Homo sapiens: one gene and its partners. The protein of the gene in region 1 interacts with the protein of each later gene in a biochemical or structural test. Each region holds a gene or a part of one and is shown in the gene's direction. Other genes may lie near its edges.

The links.
Region 2: the proteins of ENG (region 1) and SAFB2 interact on a protein array, tested with the Homo sapiens proteins (one large-scale study listed by IntAct).
Region 3: the proteins of ENG (region 1) and ABLIM1 interact on a protein array, tested with the Homo sapiens proteins (one large-scale study listed by IntAct).
Region 4: the proteins of ENG (region 1) and NSRP1 interact on a protein array, tested with the Homo sapiens proteins (one large-scale study listed by IntAct).

What each region holds. Positions count from the first base shown.
Region 1 is NC_000009.12:127,841,159-127,844,658, reverse strand, and holds part of ENG (endoglin isoform 1 precursor), read left to right. Parts: intron 1-1,413; coding exon 1,414-1,565; intron 1,566-3,500. UniProt on the Homo sapiens protein: Vascular endothelium glycoprotein that plays an important role in the regulation of angiogenesis. Required for normal structure and integrity of adult vasculature. Regulates the migration of vascular endothelial cells.
Region 2 is NC_000019.10:5,605,777-5,609,276, reverse strand, and holds part of SAFB2 (scaffold attachment factor B2), read left to right. Parts: intron 1-3,500. UniProt on the Homo sapiens protein: Binds to scaffold/matrix attachment region (S/MAR) DNA. Can function as an estrogen receptor corepressor and can also inhibit cell proliferation.
Region 3 is NC_000010.11:114,655,476-114,659,526, reverse strand, and holds the start of ABLIM1 (actin-binding LIM protein 1), read left to right. Parts: upstream 1-1,251; 5' UTR 1,252-1,326; coding exon 1,327-1,570; intron 1,571-2,932; exon of another isoform or gene 2,933-3,032; intron 3,033-4,051. UniProt on the Homo sapiens protein: May act as scaffold protein. May play a role in the development of the retina. Has been suggested to play a role in axon guidance.
Region 4 is NC_000017.11:30,175,816-30,179,315, forward strand, and holds part of NSRP1 (nuclear speckle splicing regulatory protein 1), read left to right. Parts: intron 1-2,255; coding exon 2,256-2,384; intron 2,385-3,274; coding exon 3,275-3,482; intron 3,483-3,500. UniProt on the Homo sapiens protein: RNA-binding protein that mediates pre-mRNA alternative splicing regulation.

The sequences.
Region 1 (3,500 bases):
CCAGGAGTTCAATACCAGCTTGAGCAACATGGTGAAACCTCATCTCTATAAAAATGCAAAAATTAGCTGGATGTGGTGGTGCATGCCTATAGTTCCAGCTACTCAGGAGGCCGAGGTGGGAGGATCACTTGAGCCTGGGAGGTTGAGGCTGAGGCTGCAGTGAGCTATGATTTTGCCACTGCACTCCAGCCTGAGCAACAGAGCAGAGTCTGTCTCAAAAAAATAAAAAATAGGCCAGGCGCAGTGGCTCATGCCTGTAATCCTAGCACTTTGGGAGGCCAAGGCAGGCGGATCACCTGAGGTTGGGAGTTCAAGACGAGCCTGACCAACATGGAGAAGCCCCATCTTTACTAAAAATACAAAAAATTAGCCAGGCATGGTGGTGCATGCCTGTAATCCTAGCTGCTCGGGAGGCTGAGGCAGGAGAATCACTTGAACCCAGGAGGCAGAGGTTGCAGTAAGTCGAGATCACACTGTTGCACTCCAGCCTGGGCAACAAGAGCAAAACTCCGTCTCAAAAAAATAAAATAAAATAAATAATAAAAAATAATTTTTAAAAATAAATAAAAAATAAAAATATAGGAGGCTGGCCGGGCACGGTGGCTCACGCCTGTAATCCCAGCACTTTGGGAGGCCGAAGTGGGCAGATCACCTGAGGCCAGGAGTTCGAGACCAACCTGAGCAACATGGAGAAACCCCATCGCTACTAAAAATACAAAATTAGCTGGGTGTGGTGGTGCATGCCTATAATCCCAGCTACTTGGGAGGCTGAGGCAGGAGAATCATTTGAACCCAGGAGGCGGAGGTTGCGGTGAGCCAAGATCACACCATTGCACTCCAGCCTGGGCAAGAAGAGCAAAACTCCATCTCAAAAAAAAAAAAAAAAAAAAAAAAAAAAAAAAATATATATATATATATATATGTATGTGGATGTGTGGGTGTATATATGTATATCTATATATGTATATATGTATGTATATATGTAGATCTATGTATATGTGTGTGTATGTATATATACACACACACATATATACATGGGGCCCAGTGAAATCCGAATTTCAGATAAACAATGAAAATTTAGTATAAGTACGTTCCATGCAATATTTGCAATATACTAATACTTAAAAAAATGCACTCATTGTTTATCTGAAATTTAAATTTAGCTGGGTGTCCTTCTATTCATCGACCCTATACGTAGTAGCGCTGTGACCTTGGGCAGGAGACGTTTCCTCTCCTAGCCTTGGTTTTTTTTAATCCATGGAACGAATATAATGATATCCACCTCATAAGGTGGCTGTGATGATGCAGGAAAGCCGTTAGCTCATGTCAAGTCCCTAGGAGACGTTTGGAAAGTAGGAGTCATTGTCATCACCTTATTCTCACCTGGCCTCTTTCCGGATGTTTCTCCAACAGGTCTTGCAGAAACAGTCCATTGTGACCTTCAGCCTGTGGGCCCCGAGAGGGGCGAGGTGACATATACCACTAGCCAGGTCTCGAAGGGCTGCGTGGCTCAGGCCCCCAATGCCATCCTTGAAGTCCATGTCCTCTTCCTGGAGTTCCCAACGGTGAGTGTCCCATGGCAGGGTCGGGTGGGGGCTCAGAGGAAGCTCCAAGGCAGATGGGGTGAGGGGTGCCTTCCTTGTGGCTGTCCCTGGGGCAGTGGCTGAGTCCTCGTTAGGCCCCCTGCCAAGAGAGTGATGTGGGCATCTCACAGGGCCCATAAGAGGTGGCATTTCTAGGGGCAGGGTCTGGATCAGGGCAGTCTTTTGGGTGCCACCAGAAGACTCAGGTGGGAAGAGCTGAGTAGAGAAGAGCCAGATGGGTGGGGGGGACCAGGTGAGTGTTGCTTATGCACCTCCAATGATGGAGACCTCACAGAATCTCAGAAGAATGCAGCTCCTCTCTAGGGAGCTTGGACTTTGAAAAGTGCTTCTTGGGCCAGCCACAGTGGCTCACGCCTGTAATTCCAGCACTTTAGGAGGCCGAGGCGGGTAGATCACGAGGTCAGGAGATCGAGACCATTCTGGCCAACATGGTGAAACCCCATCTCTACTAAAAATACAAAAATTAGTTGGGCGTGGTGGTGAGCGCCTGTAATCCCAGCTACTTGGGAGGCTGAGGCAGGAGAATTGCTTGAACCAGTGAGTTGGAGGTTGCAGTGAGCTTGAGATTGTGCCACTGCACTCTGGCCTGGTGACAGAGTGAGACTCTGTCTCAAAAAAATAAAAAATAAAAAAATAAAAATAAAATAAAAATACAAAAATTAGCTAGGCATAGTGGCGCATGCCTGTAATCCCAGCTGTACTTGGGAGGCTGAGGCAGGAGAATCGCTTGAACCCAGGAGGTGGAGGTTGCAGTGAGCCAACATTGCACCACTGCACTCCAGCCTGGGTGACAGAGTGAGACCCTGTCTCAAAAAAAAAAAAAAAAAAAGAAAAGAAAAAGAGAAGTGCTTTTCAGTTGAGCCCAGATCTTTCTCCCTGGAATGTCCCCTGCTGAATATCTGTGACCCTCAGAGATCCAAAGGCTGCTGCCGGCCTGGAGACGATTCTCCCCAGGAGACCCCCACTCCCAGCCCACCATCAGTTTGTCTGATACGTCTGTCCTGAATAATAACAACACCTTTGTTAAGCGCTATGTGCTAGAGACTGTGCTAGGGCCGACTCTATGCCAGGAATTAAGCATCTCACATGTATTAAGCCTCCCAAGGCTCATCTGCCAGGGTCTGTTATTATCCCCACTTCTTGGAGAAGGAAACTGAGGCTGGCTGAGAGCGATGGAGTGACGTGCCCAGGGCCAGAGTTCACACCAGATCCCTGGGGATGCCAGAGCCAGCCTGCCACTTGGTTCCCCACGTGGATCTCAGTGTTCAGGTGGCTTCTGGCCTGTTGGACTGGAGATTACACCTGGTTGATGTGGCCTTTGGTCCCGATACTGACTTCGCCGTGTCAGCTCCGGGTAAACTTATGGCCAATCTGCCCCCAAAACTGTTAAGTTGCCTTGCGTTTGTGCAGTGATAAGAAAGTGCTCAGACCACCAATATCGGGGGACCCTGCTCCCCACCGCCCTGCCCTCTACGAGGACTGTGGGCTTTGATAATTTCCAAATCATAGATAGTGCCAAACACACTTTGTGTGGTTTCCATAGGCATTGTCATTTTTTTTTTTCAAATTTGGTAATGATATTCAAAATACGACTGCCTCTGTTAGTTCGCATTGTTTGTTTTAATGTTCAGGTCCCTGTGCCTCCTCTGGGTGACTGGGATCCCCCAACCCTAATTGCTCAATACTGGGCCAGGGTGAGAGGAGGGCCCCTAGGCAGGTGTCTAGGTCTATGGGAGATAGGTGTGTAGATAGCCAGCCAGGATCCAGGGGACTGGTGCATTCTCACGGGGCACAGGGCCAGGGCACTCCAGCTGCTACGGGATTAGGCATGGCTTGTTACGGCCACACCATCCTGAACACATCCGACCTCATCTGATCTTGGAAGCTAAGGAGACT
Region 2 (3,500 bases), on another chromosome or scaffold:
ATATCATTTAGCATTTTAAGTATATAGTCTCATAACTAGAACATGATCGTGGTTCAAAAATAAATCACTAAGATGCTGCTCATGGGGGTGGGAGAAAAATAGTACAATTCAGCAGCTTTCCAAAGGAAGGTGAGGACAATTTAAAATGATTCCACTGTTTGAAATTAATTAAGAGTCTTCTTTTTTTGTTTGTTTGTTGTTCTTTTTTTTTTTTTTTTTTTTTTTGAGACTGCGTCTCGCTCTGTTGCCCAGGCTGAAGTGCAGTGGTGTGATCTTGGCTCACTGCAGCCTCCGCCTCCCTCCCAGGTTCAAGTGATTCTCGTGCCTTAGCTTCTCGAGTAGCTGGGATTACAGGCACCCACCACCATGCCTGGCTAATTTTTGTATTTTCAGTAGAGATGGGGTTTCGCCATGTTGGCCAGACTGGTCTCCAACTCCTGACCTATGTGATCTGCCTGCTTGGCCTCCCAAAATGCTGGGATTACAGGCGTGAGCCACCGCGCCTAGCCAAGAGTCTTCTGGTAAGCAATTGGCACTGCCCTGGTCTCCTGGGTGCCTCTGGGGAGTGGCTTCCAAGGGACAAGGTTCGGACCATTTAGTGTCTGGAGGGTGCCCTGATTCCAGGCAGAGTGGGCCCTGTCTGACACAGTTTTCTGGCTACAGAAGCCGTTCCTTTGTCTAGGTCTGTGTCACCCGATCAGGTGTTGGTTAATGTTTCATTGCTTAAGAAGCGGACAGGACCCGGAGAAAGCGTGCTGTTCAATTTTTCTCTGAACAGTCTGTGTGTTCAGCAAGGGCTTAGGAAATTCTTATAGCCATGAATAACCTGTTTATTCAGTTACTTTGTTGACTTCACTCGGACACTGATGATTAAGCAGAGGTAAACATACGTGGTCACTGTCATCACAGATTTTTTAGTCTGGCGGGAAAAAGACCATTTAAGAAATAAACACATATGATGTGTTGTGATGAGCGTATTAAGGAATATTAGAGCACGCCGTCAGTGTGTTGGGGAGGCCGTGTTTAGATTTGGGAGGCAGCTTCAGCAGAGCTCGCTGAAGAAGTGACATTCAGCTGAGGCGTGAGTGACAGAGTTGGCCTTACCTGTGGGGCTCAGCTCTGGACAAAAACAGAAGGACGTAGGAAGGCCAGAGGGGCAGGACACCACTCAGCTACTTGACTGAAGTATGCAGAGCCTCCAGGGCGGATGGCATAGCTCAGGGATAGGGACATACAAGCTTAGTATGGTGCCTGCTCTCATTTGGGTTTTGTCTGTCATCAGAAGAGATATACTTGTAAGGATGATTAATTTGATGGGAAGGTAGAATGGGAAGTGGCATCTGTGTTTCTCTCAGGAGAGTCTTCTGTCCCTTTGGCCCTGGACAGATTCAGGCAGAGCCTTGACTCCTCCATTTGTGTGGTCAAAACCAAGGACGTCAGATGGGAACCTCAAGCTTGTGGGTTCCACCTTGTCATTTCACAGTTGGGGCCATGAGGTCCAGAGACGGGGAATGCCTTGCTTAGGTTGATGCCCTGAGTCAGAGATAGGGCAGAGACCAGGACTCCTGTGTCCCGGGGAAATGTTTACTCTGCGCGCCAGTGGTGGTGGGCTTGGCGTTAGATCTACTGTCTTGTTCTCTATTTTCTGTTCATGTTTGTTTATTGATCTCTTTTTCCCATTTATCTGCCTTCTTGTGGGTCGAGTCCTTTTTATGACTGATGGCTTATTTGCTCTAACTCTGTGTCATTGTGGTTTACTGTAGGATTACAGTACACATCTTCCCTTACAGTCTGTCTGCAAGGGGTGCTCTGTTGGTTTCAGCGTAGTGCAAGAACTCTGTGGGAATATACTTGCATTTCCCCTCCCGTCGATCTTTGTGATGTTATTGTCATACGGTTTACTTCTCTTTAAGAAGTCACCCAATATTTTATTGGCTTTGACTTGTTGTGGTTTGGCTTTTTTGCTTTGAACAGTTGTGTTTTTTTTTGTTTTTGTTTTTGTTTTTGTTTGTTTTTGAGACGGAGTCTCGCTCTGTCGCCTAGGCTGGAGTGCAGTGGCGCGATCTCGGCTCACTGCAAGCTCTGCCTCCTGGGTTCATGCCATTCTCCTGCCTCAGCCTCCCAAGTAGCTGGAACTACAGGTGCCCGCCACCAGGCCTGGCTAATTTTTTGTATTTTAAGTAGAGATGGGGTTTCACTGTGTTAGTCAGGATGGTCTTGATCTCCTGACCTCGTGATCCTCCCACCTCGGCCTCCCAAAGTGCTGAGATTACAGGCGTGAGCCACCACGCCCAGCCAAACAGTTATATTTTAAAGAGACCCAGAAATGACAGGAAAAAATCATGTTCACCTCACCAGGTGCTCTTCGTTGCTTTTTGTTGTATATCCAAGTTCCCATCGGAGATCATCTTCCTCCCTCCTGAAGGAATTGAATGTTTCCTGTAGTGCAGGTTTGCTGGTGATACGTTCTTGTTTCTTTTGCATGTCAGAAAAAGTCTTTACTTTGTCTTCATTTTGAAATAAATTTTCACTGGGTATAGAATTCTAGGTTAATTTAATCTTTGTTCCTTCAGTTACCAATTTGTGTCTTTTCTCTCTCTTTTTCTGTGGCTGCTTTTAAGTTTCTTCTGGTTTTTTTGTTTTGTTTTGTTTTCCCTTAGAGACAGGATCTCACTGTGTCACCCAGGCTGGAGTACAGTGGTGCTCACTGCAGCCTCGAGCTCCCGGGCTCAAGCGATCCTCTCACCTCAGCCTCCTGAGTAGCTGAGACCACAGGCATGTACCACTACACCCAGCTAATTTTTAAAATTTTTGGTACAGATGTGGTTTCTCTGTGTTGCCCAGGCTGGTTTTGAACACCTGGCCTCAAGTGATCTACCTGCCTTGGCCTCACAAAGTGCTGGGATTACAGGCATGAGCCACTGTGCCCAGCCTGTGCCTGGTAATTTTTTACTGGATGTTGTGAATTGTATTTTTTGGGTGCTAGTTATACTTGTATCTCTACAAATACCCTTGAGCTTTTTTCTGGGACACAGCTGAGGTACTGGACACACACTAAGGCAGGGCCAAAGTAGCCTTCAGTTTGGGCTGATTTTGTCTCACCACTGGGCAGTGCCCTCTGAGTAGTGGGTCTGATGGCCCGTGAATTACCAGCCTTTCCACCCTGGCTATTGGGAAGAGCAAACCATTTGTGGCCCTGAGTGCCCCTCCAGTGGTTGTTCCCTCTGCTCCTGATTGTTCCCTCTGCTCCTTATGGGTGGTGCTGTCCCAGCCTCTGGTTTCCTCGCACACGTGTGCACTGGGTGGGAGGAACCCTCTGTGGGTCTCTTCAGCTTGCTCTGCGTGGCTCTGTGTGGCTGTGTCCTCTCTGATACTCAGTTCCGTGATTTCTCTCTGTCTTGGTCTCAGAATCTCAGTGCTGTCTTACCCATCCCCCATTGCCTGGGAATCTAGGCAGTGAGCAGGGGCAGTCAGGGAGCTCTCAGGGATTGTTGTCTTGG
Region 3 (4,051 bases), on another chromosome or scaffold:
AGATTTTTTGTTTTGAGACAGAGTCTTGCCCGGTCACCTAGGAGTACAGTGGCACAATCATAGCTCACTGTAACCTCAAACTCCTGGACTCAACCAATCCTCCTGCCTCAGCCTCCCGAGTAGCTGGGACTACAGATGCATGACACCACACTTGGCCAATGTTTTAATTTTTTTTTTTTTTTCTGTAGAGACAGAGTCTTGCTATGTTGCCAGGGCTGGTCTCGAAGTGGCCTCAAGCAATCCTCCCACCTCAGCCTCCCAAAGTGCTAGGATTACAGACGTGAGCAACCGCACCTGCAGATGGTTCTTATGCACAGCAATATTTGGGAACTACTGGACTAGATTACCTTTGATGGCCTTGTCAGCTCTATAATTCTATTCTAGGGTTTTAATGAAAAGGAATTTATATTAGAACATAATAGCCCAATGACAGGAGAAGGAGTGTGAGTTTATTCATTTTGACTTGGGACTTTTGTATGGTTGTAGACGGTCACATTTTGTACTGCATCTTACTGTGTGGATGTTAAAGAGTAAATGATAATTACTGGGGTTGTCCTTTTTATATCAATACACTAATTCCATGAAGGTCCTTCTAGCTTGTAACTTTGTGTAAAGCTGAAGCTACCTACATGTTAATTCTGTCTCCATCATATGATTCTGCCATCACAGAAAACCCATGAAACATTACGACAGTAAACATTGGCTTAATGGAATGAGGCAGAAGGATTTTCCTGGTACTGAGGGGAGGGGTCCCCTTCTAGAAAATGGAAAGGAAATGATCGTTTACTATGGCTGAGAGCTGGATTTGTCACGAATTGAAGCTGAGGATCTTTATCGAGCCTTCCCCACCTCCACCTGTGAGATCTGAAATACTGGAAAACTTGGAATTATTACCCTGGGATTTTTCTGATAGACATTTTTAGATTATATAAAATATGTGTATATATCCCTAGCCCTATTCTCAGTACTCTTACCAGATGATACTGAATATTCTAGGAGTATTTGCAGGAGAATTCTTTTAGATATTGCAGTTATATTCTTTCTCTTATTCTGGATATTAATCTGATTTTCAAATATGCATTCATGTCTGAGACTGAAAGTCTCGAGTTCCTGGTAGTGGCTGTTTTTATACCTAGTCATCTGACTGAGAATATGGTGCCCTAAGCTCTTGAGGGTAATCACTTAAATACATCTCCCTTAATCTTCTTTGCTGGGCAGTGAGAAAAGGAGACAGTAAGGAGCCAGGGGAACAGAGAGAATTGTGGGGCAGCACCGCTCCTTGGGTCCCCACTCCCCATTTCTCATTGCTTGGAAATCCATGCCAAGATGCCTGCCTTCCTTGGTCTAAAGTGTCTGGGGAAATTGTGCAGCTCTGAGAAAAGCAAAGTCACCTCATCTGAGAGAACCAGTGCCAGGGGCTCGAACAGAAAGAGACTGATTGTTGAGGACCGGAGGGTCTCTGGGACCTCCTTCACCGCTCATAGGCGTGCCACTATCACTCATTTGCTGTATCTCTGTCCCAAGGACTACTGCCCACGTGGGCGTGTATGTAACAGCGTTGATCCTTTTGGTAAGTAAAATAACCCTCTCTGGACATGGTTTTGTGTTTTGTGATTGGCGTAATTAAGAGAGTACTATCCAGATCATTCTTCTGTAATGTGTTCTTCAAAGGAAACACTATCCTTAATATATAATTAATGGGGGTGAGGGTGGGAGAGATGGAGAATGTAACATAAGTGTAGCTACGGAGCTAAATCCCAAGGATATTTTTGTCCAGGATTTTATGATCTTCAGTAACAAATGTATCTCTTTCCAAACTTGGTATGAATAATTGTCAGTAATAGGAAGTATGATGGAAAAGAAAGATCTCTATCTGTAGATGTTATTATTTCATATGACAAAGGATGAATGGAAAGGAAATATTCAAGGGGGGAGATGGAGGCTAGCAAAAGATAAGTAAAGTTGAGGTCCAAATTGTGTCACTGTGTAGGGAGGGCTCGTCTTGTGAAATGTTCTAAAAAAGAAATAAAATAAAAAGAAAGTGTTTTAATATTGAGAGAACTTGTTGAGGCTTCTTTTCAGTGAAGCTCATTAAAACGTGTCACTCATCCCTCTGCCTGGGAAAGAGGTGGAGAAGGCCCACTCTGAGGATAGAGTTATTGCACTTGGGAGTTTTCAGACTTTGAAGTTATCATGGTGCCTTTGTTAATGAAGATGATACCTACCCAACTGCTCACACCTTGTCAAAGTCAGACCTAGAATTGGTACAGGAAGCAGAAGGCAATTAACCATGGTCCCTACGAATGTATGAAGTTAAGTCAAATAAGCCAGGAAGCATAACGCATTCCTCGTCATTCTTGGACAGCCAGAGTTGAATTGGATTCAGTTTAGCTGAAGTACTGGAGTTAAGATGTTCTGTTTTGTTGCAATCAGCTTTCAACAGCTTTATTGAGTTATAATTCATATGCTGTAAAATTCATCCATTTAAAGTCTATAGTTCAGCGAGTTTTAGTATGCAACTGATATGTTACATATATATTTTCATTGCCTCAAAAAGAAACCCTGTACCCTTTAGCTATCGCCTCCCCACCCCAACCTCTTCATCCCCATCTCTCAGCCTTAAGAAATCAAAATCTACTTTCTGCCTCTTAGATTTCCCTATTCTGGATATTTCATGTGAATGGAATTTATAATCTGTGGTCTTTCGTTTATGGCTTCTTTCACTTAGCATGTTTTCAGGGTTTACCCATGTTGTAGCACGTGTCAGTACTTTATTCCTTGTTATGGCCAAATACTATTTCACCGTATAGATATTCCACAATTTGTTTCTGCTTACACCAGCTGATGGACATTTGGGATGTTTCCAACTTTTGGATTTTATGAATAATGCCTCTATGCATATCCATATACAAGGTTTTTTTTTCTTTTTTCGTGTCAGATGGGTAATGTGCCAATGTCATAACAAGGTTCGAGGGTGGCTCACCTCACACACGCGTGTGTGAACACATCAAAAGGATCATCATATACAGGTTTTTATGTGGACATATGATATGTTCAGGGCTCTTGGGTGTATACCTAGGTGTGGAATTTCTGGGTCATATAATAACTATGTCTAACCTTCTGAAGGACTTCTAGATTATTTCACAAAGCAGTTACTCCATTTTACATTCCCACCAGCAGCATATTAAGGTCCCAGTTTCTCCACATCCTTGCTAACACTTGCTATTATCTGCCTTTTTTTTTTTTTTTTTTTTTTTGAGACGGAGTTTTGCTTTGTTGCCCAGGCTAGAGTGTAATGGCGTGATCTCGGCTCACTGCAACCTCTGCCTCCTGAGTTCAAATGATTCTCCTGCCTCAGCCTCCCAAGTAGTTTGGATTACCGGCATGTGCCACCACACCTGGCTAATTTTGTATTTTTAGTAGAGATGGGGTTTCACCATGTTGGCCAGGCTGGTCTGGAACTCCTGACCTCAGGTGACCTGCCTGCCTCCACCTCCCAAAGTGGTGGGATTATAGGCATGAGCCACCGCGCCCGGCCTTATCTGACTTTTTTATTCTAGCCATCCTAGTGGGTGTGAAGCGGTATCTCACTGTGCCTATACAGAGCTTTGGCTGGGACAGAGAGGGCTGACAAGCAGATCAGTGCTCAGGCAAGACAGGATACCGACTTCGACAGCTGCTGATGGTAACAGCTCCTTGTCTCTTACTCTTAACAGTCTTCTCTTCATGATTCCAGGCACATTCCTTTTTAGGGGAGCAGGGAGCGGGGATGAAGAAGCCATGCCTTCTGCCCAGTCCCCTTACAAGCTCTGCTAAGAAGACTTTGTTCAGAACCAGCTGAGTATGCCTATTGTAGCAAATGACACCTCCCTCAAAAATCAGATCCACATACTAGGGGATACCTAGAATCCCTTTATTGAGGAAAAAATGTTTTATTCCACAAATAGGAATAAAAATGAAACATGTAGATTTCTGCTGGAGCTAACACTTTATTCTGAATGACTTCGATGCTTCTATGGAATGTTTCTACTCAAACAGACTCAAATCAGAT
Region 4 (3,500 bases), on another chromosome or scaffold:
TCCTCTGTGTTTGAAAATGTTCTGTATTGATACAAAAATTAGCCGGGCATGGTGGTGTGCACCTGTAGTCCCAGCTACTCAGGAGGCTGAGGCAGGAGAGTCACTTGAACACAGGAGGTGGAGGTTGCAGTGAGCCAAGATGGTGCCACTGCACTCCAGGCTAGGCAACAGAGCAAGACTCCGAACCCCCCCCCCAAAAAAAAAGAAAAAAGAAAATGTTCTCTATGTGTCCATTGGGCCAGTTGTGTTAATCCATATATATTCATACTGTTTTTTTTTGTTGTTGTTGTTGTTTTGTTTTGTTTTGTTTTGTTTTGTCTGTTCTGTTACTGAGAGGCATATGTTAAATCTCCCACTGTGATTATGGATTTGTCTATTTTTCCTTGAATATCTGTTCAATTTTTGCTTTATTTATGTTGCAACATAGTTAATAGTAACATATCTACTCAAGTGCTCCCCTACAGCTCTCCTCCCAACATATACAAAGGCATGTCATCAGTTTAAAACAGCCCTGGCCGGGTGCAGTGGCTCATGCATGTAATCCCTGTACTTTGGAAGGCCAAGGTGGGTAGATCACGAGGTCAGGAGTTCGAGAACAGCTTGACCAACATAGTGAAACTCCGTCTCTACTAAAAATACAAAAAATTAGCCAGGCATGGTAGCAGGTGCCTGTAATCCTAGCTACTCAGGAGGCTGAGGCAGGGGAATCGCTTGAACCCAGGAGGCGGAGGTTGCAGCGAGCCAAGATCCTACCACTGCACACCAGCCAGGACAACAGTGCAAGACTTCGTCCCCCCCCCCCCAAAAAAAAAACAGCCCTCAGTCTCCCTTTTTCCTTGCTTTTTGTTATTGTAGTGGTGATTATTTCTTAGATTCCATGTTTCCCTCTTTGTGTTATCCAGGCTGGTTTTGGGGAGTGAGCAGGAGTGCCAATTCAACATCTAGGCAGGAGAATCTTTCACTTTCTAAAGGTTGAGAAGTGAAAAAAATGAATTTCTTAATATTTTAAACAATATTCTAGAAAAAAAGTTTTTCAGTTAGCATGTGCATTATTCAGAGTTTAAATGTTGGTATGTAAAAACCCTAGTCTATCAGATAGATTCTTTTGAATAATTATATCATCCTATCACTTAAAAAGGATCCCTCTTGGGTTCTACATTAGCCAATCTAGCAATTGAGGAAAAAATCAAAGTGTGTAGACTCTGTACCTCAGGAATTTACAACCGGGGGCAAAAGGCTAAGATTTGTAAAACAGGAAGTAAAAACGCCCATGCCTGGCATGGTGGCTCACGCATGTAATTCCAGCACTTTGGGGGGCGCTGAGGTGGGTGGATCATTTGAGCCCAGGAGTTCAAGACCAGCCTGAGCAACATGGTGAAACTCTGTCTCTACAAAACATATAAAAATTAGCCAGGCATGGTGGCACACGCCTGTAGTCCCAGCTACTTGGGTGGCTGAAGTGAGAGGATCACTTGAAGCCTGGGAGGCAGAGGTTGCAGTGAGCCAAGATCACACCACTGGCACTCCAGCCAGTGCGACAGAGCGAGACCCCATCGCTTTAAAAAAAAAAAAAATCTAGTGTAAATATTGCAGAATAGAATGTTCCTCAGAGTTTAGAAGAAAGATCATTGGGGGTTAGAGGCCTCAGAAATGGGCTCATAGAAGAAGTAGGGCTGGCCCTGAAACACTGGGTAAGATTTTGATCGCTTGAAAGAGGAGAAAAAAACATCATTTGAGATGGAAGGAACATGATAAAGGCAGAGACTTTATGTTTAACAACTCTAAAAATGATAATGAAAGTTTAATATATAATACAGGCCTCTCAAAACCAAGGTTAGGTGTTTCCATCGTACCTTTTGACCTTTTGATGGGTATAATTATATACAAATGAATAAATGATAATAATAGTTGATGTTTATTGAATACTTATTCTCTATCAGGCTCTGTTTTAAGTTTAGTCATTTAATTATAACAGCTTAGAATGTAAATATAGTCATTATTCTTTCTCTTCTAGATGAGGAAATTAAGGTACCAAAAGATTACAAACAAACTTGCCCGGAGTAATTAGTAAGTGTAGAGCCAGCATTCATACCCAGGCAGCCTGGCTCCAGAGTTTATTTGTATTTCCTATCTAAAAATGTGATTGTAATTTTTATGATATATTTTCAATTTATGAACCATTCTCAAAAAGCATAGACTTTGTTGTATCTATTGGCTGGCTCATATTTTTGAAACATGTTTAATTTTTTTTTAAGACCAAACTGGAAATCCAGAAGGCCCTTGCAGAAGATGCTACTGTGTATGAATATGACAGTATTTATGATGAAATGCAGAAAAAAAAGGAGGAAAATAATCCCAAATTGCTTTTGGGGAAAGACAGAAAGGTTTGTAAGCTGAAATAACAAACTTTCTTTGACCTTGACCTACATTTTGTGTCTTAATCTTATTTTAACATGAGAATGATCTGAGAAAAAGCTTTTAGGTATGTGAGGTGTGAAGAGTCCCTAATTCCAGATATTACAAATTTGATTGTAGAACTCAAGCAGCACTACATATTATCCTAATAGGCCAGGTGAATTATCTAACAATTTTGCTTTTTGCTTTGAAACCTTTGCAAATAGTTTTTTGAAAACTTTTCCTTGGAATTCTAATGTACCAAATTTGTACTGTTCCTGCCCTGTGTATGTTTATTTGTGTTTTATTACCCTCTCATTTTTTCATTTCTTCCTAGCTGGTAACTGAATCATCTGCCTGCACCTATCATGATTTTATTTTCAGTGAGAAAAAAATTTGGGAGGGGTAAAAACTGAAATAAGTTCAGATTTTCTTTCTATCAACTCTTGTTCTTTCACAAGCACAGGCTGATTTTTAAGGGCATTTGCATCTGACAGTTATCTACTAGTAGAGTGATGGTATAAAATTATATTAAGCTACTATTTTAAATAGTCATATTTCTACTAAATGTGAAAAACTAGCAGGAACTTTTCTGATTTTTTTTTAATTAAGATAATACCAGAAAAAAGAAAAAAATTATATTTAGTTTGATGTTTTATTAAAGTTAAATCGCATTATAAACAATTTCTATCTCTGCTACACCTAAATTTTTATGGAAAACAGTTTCAATATTAATCTTGCTAGTAAGTTTATATTGAATGTAGGGAAGACAATCTTATTTGGGCCAATCATTTCTATCTTAATGAATTCATTATAAAAATTATAATATTAACAATTACTATTTTTTTACTCTTTTCCTAAATCTTTTTTATTTCCTTAGCCCAAGTATATTCACAACTTGCTAAAAGCAGTTGAGATCAGAAAAAAGGAACAGGAAAAAAGAATGGAAAAGAAAATACAGAGAGAACGAGAAATGGAAAAGGGGGAGTTTGATGATAAAGAAGCATTTGTGACATCTGCATATAAGAAAAAACTGCAAGAGAGAGCTGAAGAAGAAGAAAGAGAAAAGAGGGCTGCTGCACTGGAAGGTAAAATGAAAGAGTGGG